Regions from separate parts of the Homo sapiens genome. Here regions 2, 3 and 4 are each linked to region 1. Evidence: fine-mapped expression QTL. A gene starts in region 1. Each other region holds a variant in brackets. All regions are shown on one strand. Distances are between the middles of the regions.

The links. PIP is the estimated chance that this variant, and not a neighbour inherited with it, causes the effect.
Region 2: its variant is fine-mapped to the expression of ADA in adrenal gland (GTEx, PIP 0.91).
Region 3: its variant is fine-mapped to the expression of ADA in whole blood (TOPMed, PIP above 0.99).
Region 4: its variant is fine-mapped to the expression of ADA in whole blood (TOPMed, PIP above 0.99).

The regions. Positions count from the first base shown.
Region 1 is chr20:44,648,935-44,654,081 of GRCh38, reverse strand. ADA (adenosine deaminase) reads left to right here and starts at 2,383. Exons shown (of 12, transcript NM_000022.4): 1 at 2,383-2,507. The coding sequence starts at 2,475. RefSeq lists a silencer at 2,185-2,574 and enhancers at 1,611-2,594, 2,825-2,934.
Region 2 is chr20:44,679,091-44,684,237 of GRCh38, reverse strand. No RefSeq gene overlaps it. Among named protein-coding and RNA genes, the nearest start is that of LINC01260, 9.9 kb to the right of the region's middle. RefSeq lists a silencer at 592-651. The variant C/T (reference allele first, on the strand shown) is at 3,141.
Region 3 is chr20:43,954,896-43,960,042 of GRCh38, reverse strand. The region is part of intron 1 of TOX2 (TOX high mobility group box family member 2); the gene reads right to left. Among named protein-coding and RNA genes, the nearest start is that of TOX2, 43 kb to the right of the region's middle. RefSeq lists a silencer at 480-774 and enhancers at 480-774, 3,437-4,071, 4,544-4,593, 4,205-5,147. The variant C/T (reference allele first, on the strand shown) is at 2,392.
Region 4 is chr20:44,670,078-44,675,224 of GRCh38, reverse strand. It overlaps LINC01260 (long intergenic non-protein coding RNA 1260), which reads left to right and starts at 3,486. Exons shown (of 5, transcript NR_034104.1): 1 at 3,486-3,586. RefSeq lists enhancers at 3,746-4,245, 4,246-4,747. The variant A/G (reference allele first, on the strand shown) is at 2,949.

The sequences.
Region 1 (5,147 bases):
GTTTCACCATGTTGGTCAGGCTGGTCTCAAACTCCCGACCTCAGGTGATCCTCCTGCCTTGGCCTCCCAAAGTCCTGGGATTACAGGCATGAACCACTGCGCCCAGGCTCGGGTATGTCTTCATCAGTAGCATGAAAATAATGGACTAATACAGCCACCCTCTCCCTCACTCCCACATACAACCAAACCCCAAATCCAGCTGATTTTACACCCTAAATGCAGCTTGAATATGAGTTTCTCCACTTCCCCCACTGACATCACTATGCCCTACCCAGACCATGGCAGTTGCCTCCTTCCTGGTATCCTGTCCTCCCTCACCCCCGCTGGCCCCCTGTAATGCCCTCCCCTCACAGCAGGGAGCCCAGGCTTCTCAAAGTGCCCTGTGGGTGCGAACCACCTGGGGGTCCTGTTTGTATAAAATACAGATTCTACTTCAGTAGGTCTGGGATGGGGTCTGAAAGTCTGCATTTGTAGTCAGCTCCCAGGTGATGTGGGTGCTGATGATCCCTGGATCACACTTTCAGTAGCTGGAGAATATTTTTTCCAAATAAAAGGGTGATTTTGTCTCGCCTCCACTTAAAACACTCCACTGACTTCCTAGGAATCCCACACCATCGCTGGGTCCCACATCCCTGGCAGGATTCAGCTCCCATCAGACCTTCTAGCCCCTTGCTCTCCACTCTCCCACTCTCTCTTTCCCCCTTGTTTATGGGTTTGTTAATTTATTTATGATGAAATGAAATGAAGCTACCATCCACCCCAGTACTGGAACATTATCAATAACCTGTGTGTGGCCAGGCGTGGTGGCTCATGCCTGTAATCACGCCTTGGGAAGCCGAGGTGGGTGGATCATGTGAGGTCAGGTGTTCGAGACCAGCCTGGCCAACATGGTGAAACCCCGTCTCTACTACAAATCCAAAACTTAGCAGGGCACGGTGCCACGCGCCTGTAATCCCAGCTACTCGGGACGCTGAGGCCGAGAACTGCTTAAAATCCAGGAGGTGGAGGTTGCAGTGAGCCGAGATTTCGCCACTGCACTCCAGCCTGGGCGACAGAGCAAGAGTCCATCTCAAAAAAACAAAAACAAAAACAAAAAAACAAAAAACAAAAATTAGCCAGGCGTGGTTGTGGGCGCCTATAATCCCAGCTACTCGGGAGGCTGAGACAGGAAAATCGCTTGAAACGCTGGGGGTGCGGGGGAGCGGTGGGGAGGAGGCGGGCCAGAGGGGCAGAGGTTGCAGTGAGCCCAGATCGCGCCACTTCACTGCAGCCTCCGCGAAAGAGCGAAACTCCGTCTCAGTAAATAAATAAATAAATAAATAAATAAATAAATAAATAAATAAATAACCTGTACCCGCGTGTTATTTCCCTCCGTCCTTACCTCCTCCCGGCTCCTTCCCTTTCACCTGAGATAACCACTCTTCTCGTATCTATGCTCATCTTTCCCTTGCTTTACATTTTTTCCACCGATGCATGTGTCTAAACATACATACTTTTGGTTTTGCTTTTACACATTCTAAAAGTTGCACCATTGTATGCAGTTTTCCGCAACTTAGTTTTTTTCACTCAACATTGTTTCTGAGACATTGTTTCTGTTGTTGTCTGGCTGAAGTTCATTCCGTTTCACTGCTGTCTAACGTTTCATGGTGTGAATATTCCGGTTTATTTGCCCACTCGCCCGTGGAGGGGCATTTGAGGGTGTTTCCAATGTTCCTGTTATTCGGAATAGCGCTGGTGTGAACATTCTGCACAGGTCTCTGGCTGCGCCTGGGCGGGTTTCTTAAAGGTGAATGCCCAGGAGGGGACTGTCTGTGTTCTCCCTCCCTCCGAGCTCCAGCCTTCCTCGCCTCCTTTCACTCCCAGCTCCCTGGAGTCTCTCACGTAGAATGTCCTCTCCACCCCCACCCACCCCTGATGAACTCCTGCAGGTTCTGCAGGCCACGGCTGGCCCCCCTCGAAAGTTCCTTAACTATACAATTATGGTGTGTGTTTCTGCGACGAGCGTCCGTCTATCCGGTGGAAGGCACGCCGCTCGAGGCTTGCGATGCTCCCGGGGTCCCCGCTTCTAGCTTGGGCCTGGCGCACAGCAGCGCCCAGACTGCAGGGGGACGCTTGAAAGTTGCTGGAGGAGCCGGGGGGAAGGCAGCGCCCAGCGAGGCGGCTGGAGCGCGCGCCCACAGGTGGGTCCGGTCGGGCGCCGCGGGGCCGTAGTTTTCGGGTCGGCGGGCGAGGACGCCGGGTCCAGAATTCCAGGAAATGCGCGATCCAGGCCGGCGGGCGGGGCGGGGGCTCCGGCGAGAGGGCGGGCCCCGGGAACGGCGGCGGGCGGGGCGGGAGGCGGGGCCCGGCCCGTTAAGAAGAGCGTGGCCGGCCGCGGCCACCGCTGGCCCCAGGGAAAGCCGAGCGGCCACCGAGCCGGCAGAGACCCACCGAGCGGCGGCGGAGGGAGCAGCGCCGGGGCGCACGAGGGCACCATGGCCCAGACGCCCGCCTTCGACAAGCCCAAAGTGAGCGCGCGCGGGGGCTCCGGGGACGGGGGTCCGGCGCCTGGGCGGCCCGAGGGGCTTAGCGGGGCCCAGCCCGGGGCGTCCAAACCCTGGGAACGAACGGGGGCTCCTGCAGGCGAGTTCTTCCTTCGGCTTAGGCCGTGGCTTGCTTGCGGGCTAATCAGGGACAATGGGGCAGAGAAGGTCCAGAACCCGGAGGCCTCCAGAGTCTGCTTCTGCCCCTGACTTGACCCCTCTGGGTCTCAGTTTCGCTGTCTGTCAAGTGGGCATCCTAGCACCGCTGAGCGCTGTGTGGGCCTGGGCAGGGACTTGAGGTCTCTGAAGCTCAGCTGTATGATCAGGCCCGATGTCTACGCCGGATAGGCACCTAGTGCTGTGCCCGGCGCCTACTGAGTGCTCAGTGAATGGAAGCAGCTTTGTACGCCAGCGTTATGGTGGTGAGCGCCAAGGAGCTCAGGTTTGTGGATGCGCCCCGGGGAAGAACCGTGAGCCCTGCCAGAAAGGGGAGGGAGGGGAGCAGAGCACCCCCCTTCCCCCGCGCGGGAAGAACAGGAGCTAGGTAGGCCCTGGGTTTGGGGCCCTAGCAGGGTTCACTCGAGGCCAAGCCATGGCCACTGGCCCCAGGGGAGAATCCCCTTGTTTCTCCGCCCACCAGCTGTGGCGTCTTGGGACTGTTGGGGTCAGGGAGGGTCTGGACCCCCTTGGCCTGTCGCAGAGTCCGAGAGGAGGGGCCCAGGAGTCTGCCAAGCAGGGTGAGTCAGCCAGTAGGGTGTGAGAGTGGTTGGGGAAGGAGTCAGCTGCAGTCAGCCTCAACTTACCCTTCTAAGAAATAGGTGTGAGTGGCCCAGGAGGTTGGCTCACGCCTGTAATCCCAGCACTTTGTGAGGCTGAGGCGGGAGGATCATTTGAGTCCAGGAGTTTGAGACTAGCCTGGACAACAAAACTAGACCCCGTCTCTCCAAAAAATAAAAAAAGTTAGGGGAAGTGTGTGTGGTGGTGCACTCCCGTAGTCCCAGCTACTCAGGAGGCTGAGGCGGGAGGATCGCTTGAGCCCAGGAGGTTGAGGCTGCAGTGAGGTGTGATGGTGCCACTGCACTTCAGCCTGGGAGACAGAGCGAGACCCTGTCTCAAAAAAAAGAGAAGAAAAAGAAAAGAAAAGAAATAGGTGTGAATGATGATGACAGCTATCACAAAAGTGCCGGTGAGAATCCAGTGAGTGTGCATGTGTCAGTGAGGGAGACAGGCTGTGGAGAGCCCACCTACCTTCTGAGGAGGGTGAGGCCTGGCCCCCACTACTGATGCCCCCAGCCCAGGGAAAATGCTCAGCTACTCCCCGTCAGAAGCTGGAAGCACTGAGGTGCTGTACAAGCCCTCCTACCCCCACCCCTGCCTCCTTCACGTCTTACTGGAGCTGGGGCCCATGATTGGCGCCTCCCCTTTGCAGTCTTTTTATTAAATGCTCTGGGCTCCCTCTGCCCTTGGGCTGGGGACCCACTGTACCCTGATGTGAATCCTATGGCAATAGCAAAGCTCTTTGATTGGCGGGGTGCAGTGGCTCACGCCTATAATCCCAGCACTTTGGGAGGCAAAGGTGGGTGGATCATGAGGCCAGGAGTTCGAGACCAGCCTGGCCAACATGGCAAAACCCCATTTCTACTAAAAATATAAAAAATTAGCTGGGCATGGTGGCGGGCGCCTGTAGTCCCAGCTACGCAGAAGGCTGAGGCAGGAGAATGGCATAAACCCAGGAGGTGGAGCTTGCAGTGAGCCGAGATCTCGCCATTGCACTCCAGCCTGGGTGACAGAGTGAGACGCTGTCTCAAAAAAAAAAAAAAAAAAAAAAAGGCTCCTTGATTGCGAACATGTTGGGAGTTATGGAGAGAACAGCAGGGCCCACTTCTAGAGCACTTGTTGCAGACACCCATTGGATCCTTGCAGTTCTTCTGTAACAGCCCATCAAGGGAGGGGCTCATATTATTATCCCCATTTTTTGGCCTTGCTCAGTCCTCCCATCTGATTCAAGCTGGCAGATCATTTTCCCTATTGGGACCTCAGTGTCCACACCTGGAGGATGGAACATCAGCTGCTTATGTGGGTGTCCCGTGTCCTGAGTCCCAAGGCCACAAGGTGATGCTTGAGAGTGAAGGTAGAATGTTACCTGCCATGTGTTTGAGGCGTGACAAATCTTGTATGATTGTGAGGAGGAACTTGTGTGAGCTGGCAGGAGAAGTGGGAAGGAGTGTGAATCTCAGAGCCACTGTGACCAGAGCCAGCTCCCTGCCCTCTTGTGGGAGGGACAGATGACAGTTATAATTATTAGCATTACTAGCTGCAGCTAATGGAGTGTTGATGTTTCTGTGCCAGGCACCGTTCTAAACACATTATCTGCATTTTTTATTTAATCCAGGCACAGAGAGGTTAACTAGGCCCAAGATCACACAGCTAGGAAATGTCCAATCTGGGGTTTGAGTCCAAGGGAGGCTGGCTTCGAAATCCCATGCCTCTAACCATCTTTCCTAAACTACCTCTGCAGAAGCCTTTGGGGATAGAGGTGCCAGTGCCCCAGGTGCAAACCTCCTGAGACAGGAGCCTTTGCTGTGTCCTTCAGCTTCTCATACCTGCCACCAGCTGAGGCCTGGG
Region 2 (5,147 bases), 30 kb before region 1:
CAGCCAATTGCAACTGAAATGTGTTAGTTTTGCAAATGTGAAACATATGCCCATGCGAATGCGTTGGAAAGTTCCTCCATGGCCCTGGGAGAGGACATGCAAGTCAGGAGCCCTGATGCGTCACCAGCCTCACAGTAAATTCACCTCTGTGCCCAAGAATGCAGGGCTGTCTCCTGGTCCAGGATCATGGTCTCTTCCTCCTCTGATCTCCAAGGACTTGCACTCTCGGCTCTGCCACTGACCAGCTTTGTGACTTTGGGAAGTCATTTTTCTAAGTCTCAGATTATGTATGTAAATGGGTATATAGGAAGTGATTCCTACCTTGAGAGAGGAATTAAATGTTAATTAAATTGCTTAAAGGGGTTAGGTTACATTAGATTAGGTGTAAAAACGTCTGCACGTGGTAAGTGCTCATTGAGCGGCAGCCATTATTATTACTATTAGCCGCAGCTGACTTGGGCAACACCTGCTACCTGCTTCCAGATGGATCCAGAGGTTTGCTTTCTTTGCCCACTGGAGGGCAGCAGAAAGCAGAAACCTGCCTTCCAGAGCTTTGCACCCCGGCTAACACCTAACACTGGCCTCTCAAGAGGCAGGAGGAAGGGTAAGGGGTTTCTGGGCTCAAAAGTGAGGCTGGCCAGTGAATTTTCTGTGTCTCTAGGACTGGATGCTAGTGGCTGGGGTAGGTTCCCTAAACAGCTCCAATCAATGCAAAGGCAGCCAAGTCATCCAGCCCACAGCCCCAGTGTCCGTCCCTGGATGCATCCCACAGTCCTGGACAGGATGGGCAGGAGTTCTGGCCTCTGGAGCTGCTCTTCGCATTTCTGTCTGTGTGACCTTGGGCAAGTGCCTTGACCTCTCTGTGCCTCCATTTCTTTTTCCGTAAAATGGAAATATTGCTGTTTCCCCCAAAAGGAAAAGCTTCCATATATGCAGAGGGATGGCCATGCTTGCGTTGCTTTGCATCAGGTAAATCTGTTACATTGTAATTAGCTTTTTTCTTCTGATCACAAATGCAATGCATTAATTGGTTTGAATATTTTGAGTGCCCTACAGCAGGTCAACCCCTGCATGAGCTGATGAAATTGGCAAAAATGAAGCTAGTCATTGTGTTGGGGTGGTGGGATTCTGGATGACAGAGTTCCCCCCTCAGCAACCGCCACCCCATTCTCCCAACTTTCTATGTTATTGCATCGCCTTTACAATGGTAGAAAAGAGAGACCAGGAGGAACGTAACTGAGCACTTACTATGTGTGAGATGTTTCCATTTATCCTTTCCCTAATTCTGCAGGCTCTACACGGCAAGCCCATGTCTGTGTTGCTTGCTGCTGTTTTCCCAGTGCCCAGCACCGTACCTGGCATGTCGTTGGTCCTCAAAACATACTTGTTTAGCAGTCAAAGAAATGATTTGTGCAAAGTTTACAAATGAGGAAATTGAGGTTCAAAGAGGTTATGTGACTTGTTCAATATCACCTAGCTAGTGGGACGCAGGACCAGGATCATTGGACTTCAGGTCCTGAGGAAGGTCTTTCTACTCATGCCTGTCCCTCTGCCTCCTCACATTCCGACACCCTCTTTGTAAAGCTGTCTTATTTTACAGGCATCTGATCAGGCGGCCTGCAAGAAGAGTGCGCCCCCTTAGCCAGTATGGCCACGCTTCCTCCCTTAGGGGCTGCTGGGTGTGCCCCTCATCTTCTCAACCCCCTGGGGACCCCTGGAGGATCTGGAGCACACCCTCCAGCTGGGGGATTTGCCCAGCAGGTGAGGCCCCTTAGTCGCTGTAGCCCATTTGGAAGTTTGGCAGGTGGATTTCTAGTGCAAGGCCACCTCTGCCCTCTGAGCTCAGAGCCACCTATTTCTGCCCCACCCAGTCCTGCACACAGCTGGTAGCAGGTGCAGGGAGGAGGCAAAAGCCAGACTTTGCCCCTTTATCTTGCACCCCTTTTCCCATTCTCAGGCAGATGTGTGTCCAAAAGTGTTTGACCTGTGCTGTGTGCATATGGGAATATGCACATATATACATGCGTGTCCCCATGCACATACCTGTGGACATGGGCAGCCCTGTGTGTGAGCACACATGTGTGTCTGAGTGTGGCTTGTGCGATCCTCCATGTGCCCATGGGTGCAGACGTGAATCCGAGTGTGAACGTGAGCTTATATGTAGCTCTGCATGTGTGTGGGTAATGCTGAAGGATAGACCACCAAGCAGAAGGGCATCTCCTTGCCCCGCCTCAGTTTCCTCATCTGTAAAATGGGGACAACAATGGCACCTAACAGGTGGAACCGGCAAGGCACACAGTAAGTGTCATGATAGTAGCCCTTTTTATTAAGCTTCTCGGGGATGTGTGCGGATTCCACAAAATAAGAACGCAGAAAGGGACTGGCTCAAGAAATGTTTCTCCCATCATTCTTTCATCCTTAGGTCCAGAAGTATTTCTTCTGTTCTCTTGGTTTTATCACTGCAAAGGTAATATAACAACAGTGGAGGAAGTTTGAGAAGAAAACATGGGGAAGGGGAGATACCTGTCCCCCAAAACCCCACCACTCCCGACACAAGAAGGAATTTCATTTTTGCTTGTTCTTTTCCTGACTTTGTCCATGAGCCAGCATGGAGCTTGGCACACAGCGCCGAGCTCGAAAAAAATATTTGGATGTTTTAACAAATATATATTAGCTAAAATGACTACACTGAGTATTTTTCCATCCTGCATTTGTTCACACATCAGGGACATTTTCCATATGATAGCTGGTCTTTATAGTTATTATAATTATTATTATTATTTTGAGATGGAGTCTGACTCTCTCGCCTGGGCCGGAGTGCAGTGGCTCAATCTCGGCTCACTGCAACCTCCGCCTCCCAGGTTTAAGCGATTGTCCTGCCTAAGCCTTCTGAGTAGCTGGGATTACAGGCATGCACCACCATGACAGGGTAATTTTTGTATTTTTAATAGAGATGAGTTTTCACCATGTTGGCCAGGCTGGTCTTGAACTCCTGACCTCCAGTGATCTGCCCACCTTGGCTTCCCAAAGTGCTGAGATTACAGGCATGAGCCACCACGCCCAGCCCAGTATTTATAATTATTAAAGATAATAGGCCAGGCGCGGTGGCTCACGCCTGTAATCCCAGCACTTTGGGAGGC[C/T]GAGGTGGGCAGATCATGAGGTCAGGAGATGGAGGCCATCCTGGCCACATTTCACAATGTGGCCTAGTGTTTCCACATTGTGAAACCCCATCTCTACTAAAAATACAAAAATTAGCCGGGAGTGGTGGTATGTTCCTGTAGTCCCAGCTACTTGGGAGGCTGAGGGAGGAGAATCACTTGAACCCGGGAGGCAGAGGTTGCAGTGAGCTGAGATCATGCCACTGCACTCCAGCCTGTGACAAAGTAAGACTCTGTCTCAAAAAAAAAAAAAAATTAGGAACTACCTACTGCTATAGACGAGTCACTTGTATTAAGAAATGTTATGTCGCAGTAATGAACATCTTTTTCCATCTAGAATTTTTTTTCTTTCTTTGGAACAGGTTAGTGTTTCCACACTGGGAATAGGGTGTCCCAGAATTTATAAAGGGGATTCCACTGAAAAAAACCAGAAACATTAACCGTCAAGGCCATGCAAATCAAAGCCACAATGAGATCCCACTACACACCCCCACGAGGATGGCTACAATAAAAAAGACAAACAATAATAAGTGTTGGTAAGGAATCAGAGAAATCAGAACTCTCATACATTGCTGACAGGGATGAAAAAAGTGAACAAAGCCAGTCATAAAAGACCACAGGCCTGGACGCACTGGCTCATGCCTGTAATCCCAGCACTTTGGGAGGCCAGGGTGGGAGGATCACTTGAGCCCAGGAGTTCTAGACTAGCCTGGGCAACATAGGGAGAACCCATCTCTACAAACAATTTTTTAAAAATTTGCTGGGCATGGCGGTGCACTGTGGTCCCAGCTACTTGGGAGGCTGAGCAGGGAGGGTCATGTGAGCCCTGGAGTTCGAGGCTGCAGTGAGCTGTGATTGCACTGTTGCACTCCAGCCTGGGCAAGAGAAGGAGACCCTGTCTCAAAAGAAAAAAAAAAAGACCCCATGTTGCATGACTTCTTTTCTATGAAACATCTAGAAAGAGCAAATCCATAGAGACAGAAAGTAATTGGCAGTTACCTGGGGCCAGAGGGGGGTCGGCTGCAGGACTGACTGCTGATAGGTACAGGGTTTCTGTGGGGGATAATGAAAAAGTGCCAAAATTGATTGTGACAAATATATAAAAAACTATTGAATTGTACACTTTATCTGTTGTTGTTGTTTTTGAGACAGAGTCTTGCTCTGTTGCCCAGGCTAGAGTGTAGTGGCATGACCTTGGCTCACTGCAACCTCCATCTCCCGGGTTCAAGCGATCCTCCTGCCGCAGTCTCCCGAGTAGCTGGGATTACAGGCGCCCACCACCATGCCCAGCTAATTTGTGTATTTTTTGTAGAGATGGGGTTTCACCATGTTGGCCAGGCTGGTCTCGAACTCCTGACCTCAAGTGATCTGCCCGCCTCGGCCTCCCAAAGTGCCAGGATTACAGGCATGAGCCACCACACCCTGCCTGAATTGTACACTTTAAATGGGTGAATTGTATGGCATGTGAATTTTATCTCAATAAAGCTGTTATAATCAAGTATTTTTTTAAAAAGGATGGAGACCCAAGATGACAATAAAAATGCACGCCGTCATTTACTGGGAGCAGGGACTATCGCCAAGACTCATTAATCTCATGTATCTTTCACAATAACCCTATTGGCTTATTTTCCCCATTTTACAGATAAGGACGCTGAGATTCAGAATGACTAAGTAACTGGCCCAACGGCACTTAGTTTTTTAGCGGTAGAGGTGTGATTTGAACCCAAGCTCATGCTCAATTTGAAGTACTTTTGTTGCCTCTTTAGAAGGCACCAGGAGCTAACGCACCAGGCCGACAGCACAGACAGGGGCCCAGGATCGGGGCCTCCTCTCTCCCCTGCCATTATCTGGCCTGGGCAGCCACAGCTCACAATCAGGGCTCTCTATCTCTCCCTCAGGCCTTCTCCCTGCATCTCCCTGTGTATGGCCCCTCCAGTAGAAACCCAGTGGAGGCTGATCTGGCAAACAGATCTGACTCAGGCCTCTCCA
Region 3 (5,147 bases), 690 kb after region 1:
CGAGGGAGGTTATGTAGCTTGCCCAAGGCCACACAGCTAGGAAGGGGTGGAATGAAGATTCAAACCCAGGAAGTTCAACTCCAGAGCCTACACTCTAATGAGAAGGCTGTACTCCTGCCAGGTCTTGCCCCGTTACCTCCCATAACATGGAGCTGGCCAGCTCCCAGCTCTCCCTAGAGGCTGGGATGCAGTCAGCAGTCTAGAGCCTCAGGTTGCCCTGCGCTGCCAATATTTGTATTTGACAATTATCTATCATCCAAGCAGTTGGGAACAAGTCCCAAAACTGATTCTTACCAAAGGCAATTAACTAAAAGCCGCATGAGCGTACGTCGGGTTGCACTGTGGTGTGGGGGGAACGAGTGTGACTGAGACAATGAGCAGATGATGTGGAAGATATTTTCTCCCCAGCACTACAAAACAAGCCCTCAATCATGCCACAAAAGGCTCGTGTTGTCGGAAGGGAAATATGTCAACGACAGCGTTCGATCTTGGAGCGGTTCAAAAAGAAGAAGAAAAGAAATCTTTGAAATTGTAATTTGACCTAGAAAGGTTTTTCTAGGTCATCTGAACTTGGCACTTATGCCTCTAACCCCAAACCTAACACAGACAAAGTGCCAGGTTCACTTCCTTCTGTCAGTACCAGATAACACAGGAAATGGTATTTGTAAACACTGCTGATATATTTTTAAGCGCTGTCTCAACGTCGGCCTTTGGACTGGGAGCTGCGAGAACACTGGTGCAGCACAGCTCTGGAAGCAGGCAGATCTAGGTTCAAGTCCAGGCTCTGCACTAAGCTGCTGCATGGCAGTGGGCAGGGATCTTACCCCTCTCGTCCTCAGATTCCTCCCCTGGAGAACAGGAATGGAACAGGCAGGGTTTTGCATGCTACCTAGCAGTATGCAGAGAAAGGCCAGCTCCCCGCTTTCACCCCAGTTGCCTTCCCAGGCAGAGAGCCACCCCTCTGTTCTTGACTATTGAACCCTTCTGACCCAGATCTGGGCTGTCTCCTGGAGACCCAGGAGGGCAGTGGGGGGCTCTGTCCTAAGAGGCCTTTTCTCTCCCAGAAAACAGAAAACTGCACTCCAAGGCATGGCATGTGCCAATGAGTTATTCTAATTCATCTTCACTGTGGACCCACTAAGATAAATAATGAGGCCTCAGGGCTGGGAGGGCTTTAATCCTCTGGCTTCTGCAAATCCCACTGGGGAAACCAAGGCCAGGGCTGATGGATGGCCCACCGTTATTGGCAAGAGCATGTCCAGGGTTACAACCACCAAATTGTTGAGTCCTGTAAGCCTGCACCTCCAGAAGAAGCCAGATTTAGCCCAGTTACTGTCAAAAGCCCAAGGGCACGGTGAACATTCCTGTCTTCCCCAAGCCCTGACCTCAGCACCTACAATGTACCTGGCCATATGCCAGGTGCAGAGGGGCACTAGGGACCTAGAACCAATTCCCAGGGAAGCTCAGGTCCATAGGGAAAATGGGTATCTGCATAATGGCACCTGGAGGGGGGTGATAAAGCACTAAGGTGGAGATAGGCCAGGTGAGAGCAGTTGGTACATACCTGTGAGGTAGTGGGTCCAGAGTGAGCAAAGGCTGGGCAGCCAGGTTGGGGGAAAACCGGTATGTGTGCTGGGGAAGGGGAAGAAGGGGTGTCTAGAAGTCACTGAGGTAGGCTACAGTACAGAATGTGAGAGAGAAAATCAACATCCACTAAAGAAAACAGGTGCGTGTTTAAAGCAATATTCTTAAAGAAAGAGTAATGGAAGGATGCCCAATCTGGCCAGAGAGTGAAACATTCCGTGAAGCCACAATTAAAGCAGTGTGGCAGTAACAGAAAACAAGAATTCTAAAATCAATGAAACAGAAGGAAAAGTACAATGTTGGACCCAACTAGGTATGGAAACGTATCAAGATTAAGGAGGGCATTTCAGAGGGAAGACCACGTAAAGACACAAGGGGAAGCTGTCCACCTGCAAGCCTAGGAGAGAGGCTGATATGATTTAGCTCTATGTCCCCACCCAAGTCTCATGTCGAATTGTAATGCCCAATTTTGGAGGAGGGACATGGTGAGGTAATTGGATCTTGGGGGCGGATATCCCCCTTGCTGTTCTCGTGATAGTGAGTTCTCATGAGATCTGGTTGTTTGAAAGTGTGTAACGCTTCCCCACTTGCTCTGTCTCTCCTGCTGGCCATGTGAAGTGTACCTGCCACCCTTTCACCTTCTGCCACGGTTGTAAGTTTTCTGAGACCTCCCCAGAAGCAGAAGCTTGTACAGCTCACAGAATCGTGAGCCAAATAAACCTCTTCATAAATTACCCAGTCTCAGGTATGTCTTTATAGAAGTGTAAGAACAAACTAATACAGAGGCCTCAGATGGAATCAACCCTG[C/T]CAACACCTTGATCTCATACTTCTGACCTCTAGCCCTGTGAGAAAATAAATATTTGTTTAAGCCAAAAAAAAAAAAAAAAAAAAGAGGGCATTTACTTTATGCCAGGTAACATGTGATGTGCTTTGCACATGATCTTCTGCTCAATCTTGACAACGGTCCTAGGAGGAAGATATCATCCAGTTTTACAGAGGAAAAAACAAGCCCAATTTAAGCAACGTGCTCATAGCTCACACAGAAAGTGGCAAAGCCAAAATCTTAATTCTGCTAAAGCTCACGCTTATAACAGCTACTATATTTTGTCTCCCCTTTTGCAAACAAAGAGACAAGGGCTAATTATATAATAAACAGAATGGGGACAAGAGGGTTATCCTGTCCCTATTTAGGAACAGTGAACTAGATACCCACTGCAAGACACCAACCAAAATGCATGCACTCCGAATGGATTAAAGAGTTAAACATAAAAAGTCATGTTACAGGGAAACAATCAGAAAACAGAACAGAATGTTTATCAGATCTGTGGAGCAGGATAACTTCTTCAGCCCTCGAAGCAATCACAGAGGAAGAGAGATTGACAGATTCAAATATATATGCATTAATATCTTCTGTGGAAGAAAACATAATAAAACCAAAATGAAAAGGACATCAGACTAAGAAAATATCAGCACCAACTATAAGACAGTTAATATATACAAGGTAGAAATGGCTCAGTCACATTAAACAGAAAGCAAGATGCCAACAGACAAAAAGACATGGGATTCAAACAAAAGTCACACAAGAGGCGATATCTTAAGAAACAAATATGGAAGGGAAAAAAGGGACACCTGATTCAATGGCAAGTGGGGAAATGCACATAAAATAAACTTACTGCAATGCAACTGGGATATTTCACACCACTGCGGACATGGGAAACGGGTTCCAGCCTAATGGAAGACAATATGGTGGCCACTCTTAGGCAGACACAGCTAGCCAGAGGCAGGGGACGAGCACTCAAGGGCTTAAAACAGTCTTGCTTAAAACAGCCTTTTACTCTGAGTGCTGGGGATGGTAAAGTGATATACAGAAAACAGTCTTTTTTTTTTTTTTTTTTTTTTAAAGATAGAACCTTACTCTCACCCAGGCTGGAGTGCAGTGGCATGATCTCAGCTCACTGCAACCTCGGCCTCCTGGGTTCAAGCGATTCTCCTGCCTCAGCCTCCTGAGTAGCTGGAATTACAGGCATGCGCCACCATGCCCAACTAATTTTTGTATCTTTAGTAGAGATGGGGTTTCATCATGTTGGCCAGGCTGGTCTCGAACTCCTGACCTCAGGTGATCCACCCACCTCAGCCTCCCAAAGTGCTAGGACTGATTACAGGCCTGAGCCACTGCACCTGGTGGACACACAGTCTTTGTCCCGGAGCTCATGGTCTAGGGAAGGGGACAGGACCAGGAATCAGAATATGGGTGGGTGATAAGTAGATGGGAAGCCAGGTTCGTGGGGCCTAGACAAGGGCCTTGTAAAAAGACTTCACGGAAGAGGTGGCTTCTAAGCAGATCTACCCGCAGCATGCACACAACTAGCCAGGCGAGGGCAGAGGCCAGTGGGAACAGCATTTGCCAAAGCCTGGGAGCTGGAGGGAAGGGCCCATTCATGGAATAGTAAGGCGGTGCAAGATAAGACAGAAAGGCAAGCAGGGCCTTATCACAAGGGAGCTTCAAGGGCCACACTGGGGAGATGAGACTGAAACCCGGAATGTGGGCTGCACTTCAGAAACTGGCCTCTGGCTTCTGGGTGGAGAATGGGTTGTAGATGCTAACTAAGATGGGGAAACGGGAGTCTGAGCAGGGCTTGGGCAGGGAAGAAACACTGGCTAACACAATAATAAGTAAAACAGCGTGGCAGTGATTCAAAACTAGAAATTTATACTGATGGCTAGAATGAGAAGCAGGTTTGGAGCCAGAATAAAACCATGACAGCCCCAGCATGTTATGCAGAATACGGCCTTGAGAGTCTCAGAGATGAGTGAAAAGTGCCAAGGGCAAGGGATCACCCAGGAGTCAGAAAGGGGGTGACTCATGCAATTTGCAAACCCTAATTTCCTCTCCTTGGTCACACACTTCCTTCTGATTTCTTTCTTCTGATGATTCATTAAAAAAAAATTCTCCTTTTAAATTCACATCAGAAATGTCTGAGTACCTCGGCTCACCCTGCCCTAAGCTTTAACCCCTGCCCCTGAACCAGCAAAACCCAACATAACCCCAGGTGGCTAAGAAGACACTGGCTGCCAAGAAACCAGAAGCCAGCCAAGGGGAAACAACGGGTTTCAGGCTCTGCGATGGCTGCCAGAGGCCCCCATGGGCCCTCCTGTGACCCAGGAGGGTTTTCAGCAGCTACTCACATGCACAGATCCACAGCTCTCAGCCAGAACTCGTGCAGTTTCAGAATTTGTTTGAATTTCAGAAAAGTAATGAAGTGCAAATTCTGCAAATTATGCCATAGCTTCAGTGGAGCCTCAGGCAACACCTGCAATGGAACACATTCATATTTCTGCAGTGGAACATATGAATATTCACACAAGTGGGGTGAGTAAAGATTACAAAGAGCCTCGCGTCAGCTCAGGTCAGATTTTGGGGGCCAAATGAGTTTGCAGCATATTGACAAAACAACTTCTCGTCGCAGGGCTTTTTGGATTGTAGATAAGGCAGTTTCAAGCGAATCAAGCACCAGGAGTCACGTGCTAGAAGGCTGTCCCTCTGTATGCCCATTTTACATAGG
Region 4 (5,147 bases), 21 kb before region 1:
AAGTTTCAGCAGGAGAGTAGGTGGGAGTGACCCATGAGGAGGAGAAAAACTGTCTGTGAGGGACAGAAGTTGGAATGCTAGCTCTTTCTTTAGCTACCTTATCAGCATAAGCGTTGCCCTGAACGATGGGATCTGATGCCTTTTGGTGGCCCTTGCAGTGTATGACTCCAGTTTCCTTTGGAAGTAAAGCGGCCTTGAGAAGAGTTTTTATTAAAGAGGCAATAATGATGGAGGACCCTTGCGTAGTGAGGAAACCTCTTTCAGCCCATTTAACACCATGGTGGTGCAGGATATGGAAGGCATATTTAGAGTCAGTATAAATATTGATGCGTAGTGCGTAGTTCCTTTGCAAGAGTGAGGGCTCGAGTTAAGGCAATGAGTTCAGCTTGCTGAGAGGTAGTGGAGGTGGGCAGAGTGGTAGCCTCAATGATAGATGTGGAAGATACTATAGCATAGCCTGCCTTTGCTGGTGTGTGGCGATTAGGCCTAGTGGAACTGCCATCAATATACCAGGTGTGATCAGGGTGAGGAACAGGAAAGAAGGAAATGTGGGGAAATAGAGTGAATGTCAGGTGTATCATAGAGATACAGTCATGGGGGTCACGTGTGGTATCAGGAATAATGTGGGAGGCTGGATTGAAGTCCGGGCCAGGAACAATGGTAACTGTGGGAGACTCAACAAAGAGTGAGTACAGCTGAAGGAGCCGGGGAGCAGACAGTATATGTGTCAGGTGTGAGGAAGAAAATAGATTTTGGAAGTTATAAGAACTGTAGAGAGTGAGTTGAGCATAGTTTGTGATTTTGAGGGCCTCCAAAAGTATTAGGGCAGCAGCGGCCACCGCATGGAGACATGATAGCCAGCCTAAAACAGTAAGGTCAAGTTGTTTGGACAAAAAGCCTATAGGGTGCGGTCCCAGTCCTTGTGTACGAATTCCAACTGCACAGCCCTACACTTCGGCTGCGTGTAATGAAAAGGGTTGAGATGAGCCAGGGAGAGCTAGTGTGGGAGCAGTCTCTAAAACTGTCTTCAAGGAACAGAAAGAGGAGTGGGGAAAGGATTGAGAATCTATGGAGTCAGCTAGGTTTCCTTTTGTGAGTTTATACAATGGTTTTGTTAGGATGGCAAAACCAGGTATCCAAAGACAAAAGTATCCAACCACGCCCAGGAAGTAAAGGAGTTGTTGTTTTGTAGAAGGGCCTGGGGTTTGAGAGATCAGTCGGACACGATCCGCAGGGAGAGCGCATGTGTTGTTATGAAGAATTATGCTGAGGTAGGTAATGGATGGAGAAGAAATTTGAGCTTTGGACAGGGATACCCAATATCCCTTGGAGAATAAATGTTGAAGGAGCAGGAGGGTGTCTTGTTGAGAAGATTCAAAGGAGGGGCTACAAAGTAGAAGGTCATCAATATATTGAATAAGGCAAGAAGCAGAGGGGTGGAAAGAAAGTAAATCATAAGAAAGAGCTTGGCTGAAGTAATGAGGGCTGGCCCTGAAGCCTTGCGGCAGTACAGCCCAGGTAAGCTGCTGGGACTGATGGGTGTCAGGATCGGTCCAGGTAAAAGCAAAGAGAGGCTGGGACAAGGGGTGTAGGAGAATAGTGAAAAAAAGCATTTTAAAGATCAAGAATGGAATAGTGAGTTGTGGAGGAAGATATTGAGGACAAAAGAGCGTACGGGTTGGGCACCACAGGGTGGATAGGCAAAACAATTTGGTTGATAAGGCACAGATCCTGAACTAACCTGTAAGACTTGTCCGGTTTTTGAACAGGTAAAATGGGAGAATTGTAAGGAGAGTTTATAGGTTTTAGAAGCCCATGCTGTAGCAGGCAAGTGATAACAGGATTTAATCCCCTTAAAGCCTGTTGTGGGATGTGATACTGGCATTGAGTGGGGTAAGCGTGATTAGGTTTTAATGGGATAGTAATGGGCATGTGATTGGTTGCCAGGGAGGGAGTGGAGGTGTCCCATATTTGTGGGTTAAGGTCGGGGGATATGAGAGGAAGACCCAAAGGAGGCTTTGGGTTGGGAAGAAGGGGGCAATGAGATGTGGCTGTAGTACAGGAATAATCAGGGAAGCAGATAATTTGGTTAAAATGTCTCAGCCTAATAAGGAAGCTGGGCAGGTGGGGATAACTGAAAAAGAGTGCATAAAAGAACGTTGTCCAAGTTGGCACCAGAGTGGGGGAGTTTTAAGGGGTTTTGAAGCTTGGCCATCAATACCCACAACAGTTATGGGGGCGAGGGAAACAGGCCCTTGAAAAGAAGATAATGTGGAGTGGGTAGCCCCCATATCGATTAAACGGGATGGACTTACCCTCCACTTTAAGAGTTACCCGAAGCTCAGCGTCTGTGATGGTCCAGGAGGCTTCTGAGGCGATCGGGCTACGTCAGTCTTCAGCTGCTAAGCCGAGGAGATCTGGGAAGGAGTCGGCCAAGGAACATAGGGTTTGGGCTCCAGGGGCTTTAGGAGTGGCAGTGATGTGAGTCGGACAGTCCGACCTCCAGCGGGGGCCCGCACAGACAGGGCACGGCTTAGGAGGAATCCCGGGCTGCGGGCATTCTGAGGCCCAGTGGCCAGGCTTTTAGCATTTGAAGCAAGGTCCACGAGGATGTTTTGAAGGAGCCCCTGGGAGCTGTGGCTTGGATGTTCTGAAGTTCTTGTATGCTGGAGACGTGGTTGTGGGCTGTCTTACAGCGGAGGCGAGCAGCTGTAACTCAGAAATGCGTTGCTGCCTGGCTACCTCCTCTGTATTATTGTACACTTTGAAGGGGAGGTTGATTAATTCGTGTTGTGGGGTTTGAGGGCCGGATTCCAATTTTTAAAGCTTTTTTCTAATGTCAGGAGCTGGGTGATAAAATGCATATTAAGAATAAGGCGGCCTTCTGGCCCCTCTGGGTCTAGGGCGGTAAAGTGTGTAAGGGTTGCTGCCGAGCGGGCCATGAACTG[A/G]GCTGGGTTTTCGTCTTTACCTTGGGTAGTTTCTCTAAGTTTGTCATAATTAACAGCTTTGTAAGCTGCCTTTTTAAGCCCTTCAACTAGGCAGGAAACCATGTAATCTCGCCTAGCCATACCTGGGGAATCTGCCTGATAGTTCCATTGGGGGTCCTCTCGGGGAACTGCTCTACTGCCTTCCTGGAGGTCAGGTTCATGAAGCCGGCGGTTATCAGCGTGAGATTGGGCTAGAGAAAAAACTCTTTCCCGTTCATCTGGGGAGAGGGTAGAAGTCAGGATGACATTTCAGTCACTCCAGGTTAAACTGTAGGACAGAGTTAGATATCGGGATTCCTGTATATATTTAGTGGGGTCTGATGAGAAAGAGCCTAAATGCTGGCTGATTTGGGAAAGGTCTGATAGAGAAAAAGGCACATGTACCCTGACTATGCCTTCAGCTCCAGCCACCTCTCTAAGAGGAAATTGTTGGGCAGGTGGGGGAGAGCTAGCCGCAGAACGAAACTGAAAACCAGACTGGGTGTGGGGAGGGCGGGTAATAGAAGGGTTATAGGATGTGGGAGCAGAGGCTGAAGAAGAGTTGGAGGCTGATTCAGCCTGGTGGGGAGCGAGCTGAGGAGGAGCAGTCTGGGAAGAAGGTGAGACGTCAGATGGTTCAGTAGAAAAGGAAGATTCACAAGACTCAGCGACGCTTGGGGTTGGGACTGAAGGGACAGGTGGGAGGGAAAGAAGGAGGATTTGGGACGAGTCGCATTGGGAACAGAGACTAGGGAGGGAACGAAGTGTGAAAAATGCCTGGACGTAAGACACCTCAGACCATTTGCCCATTTTTCAACAAAAATTATCTAGGTCTTGTAGGACGGAGAAATGAAAAGTGCCATTTTCTGGCCATTTAGAACCATTGTTAGTTTGTATTGGGGCCAAGTGGTGTTGCAGAAGAAAATAAGATGCTTAGATTTTAGGTCAGGTGAGAGTTGAAGAGGTTTTAAGTTCTTGAGAACATAGGCTAAGGGAGAAGAAGGAGGAATGGAGGGTGGAAGTTTGCCCATAGTGAAGGAGGCAAGTTTAAAGAGAAGGGTAGAGATATGGAGAAGGGGGTGGGGAGCAGCCCTGGGCTGCAATGTGGGTGAGCAGCCAAAGCAGGCGTCCCCGCAATTGACTTGCCACCAAGGGAATGTGGGTGAATGACCAAAGCAGGCGTCCCTGCGGTGATCGGACACCAATGGAATGTGGGTGAATAATCAGGCAGGCGTCCCCGCAGTGATTAAATGGCAAGGGAAGACTGTCTTCCTGAGTCTGTGACCGGCCCTGGAGTTTTGGGTTCACGGATAAAATGTGTCTCCTTTGTCTCTACTGGAGAGGAAAAAGAACTGGAATTGGAAGGACAGAGAGATTGAAGGGTAGCAAGAGAGGCTGGAGAAGAGAGTGAAAAGACCACTTACCCAATTTGAAATTGGTGAGATGTTCCTTGGGCTGGTTGATCTGAGGACCCGAGGTCGTAAGTGGATCTCTTCACGGAGTGAGGGTGAGGACAGGGGACTGGTCTCCCGAAGGAGTCCCTCTGACCCGGGTCTTCAGCACCAAATGTCACACGCATCTGTGTGAAGAGACCACCAAACAGGCTTTGTGTGAGCAACAAGGCTGTTTATTTCACCTGGATGCAGGCGGGCTGAGTCCGAAAAGAGAGTCAGCAAAGGGTGGTGGGATTATCATTAGTTCTTACAGGTTTTGGGATAGGCAGTGGAGTTAGGAGCAATGTTTTGTGGGCAGCGGGTGGATCTCACAAAGTACATTCTCAAGGGTGGGGAGAATTACAAAGAACTTTCTTAAGGGTGGGGGAGATTACAAAGAACTTTCTTAAGTGGGGGGAGATTATAAAGTACATTGATCAGTTAGGGTGGGGCAGAAACAAATCACAATGGTGAAAGGTCATCAGTTAAGGCTATTTTCACTTCTTTTGTGGATCTTCAGTTGCTTCAGGCCATCTGGATGTATACATGCAGGTCACAGGGGATATGACGGCTTAGCTTGGGCTCAGAGGCCTGACACAAAAGACCTGAAAAAGACAACTTGAGACCAACAGAATGTCTCTCCCTCTCCCCCGTTTCTTTTCTCCTTTTTTTTTTTTTTAGCAGCAGTTTACTCAAAAGGTAAACAAAAAAATCTTTTGCTATCTCTTATTAATACTATATGAGGCAG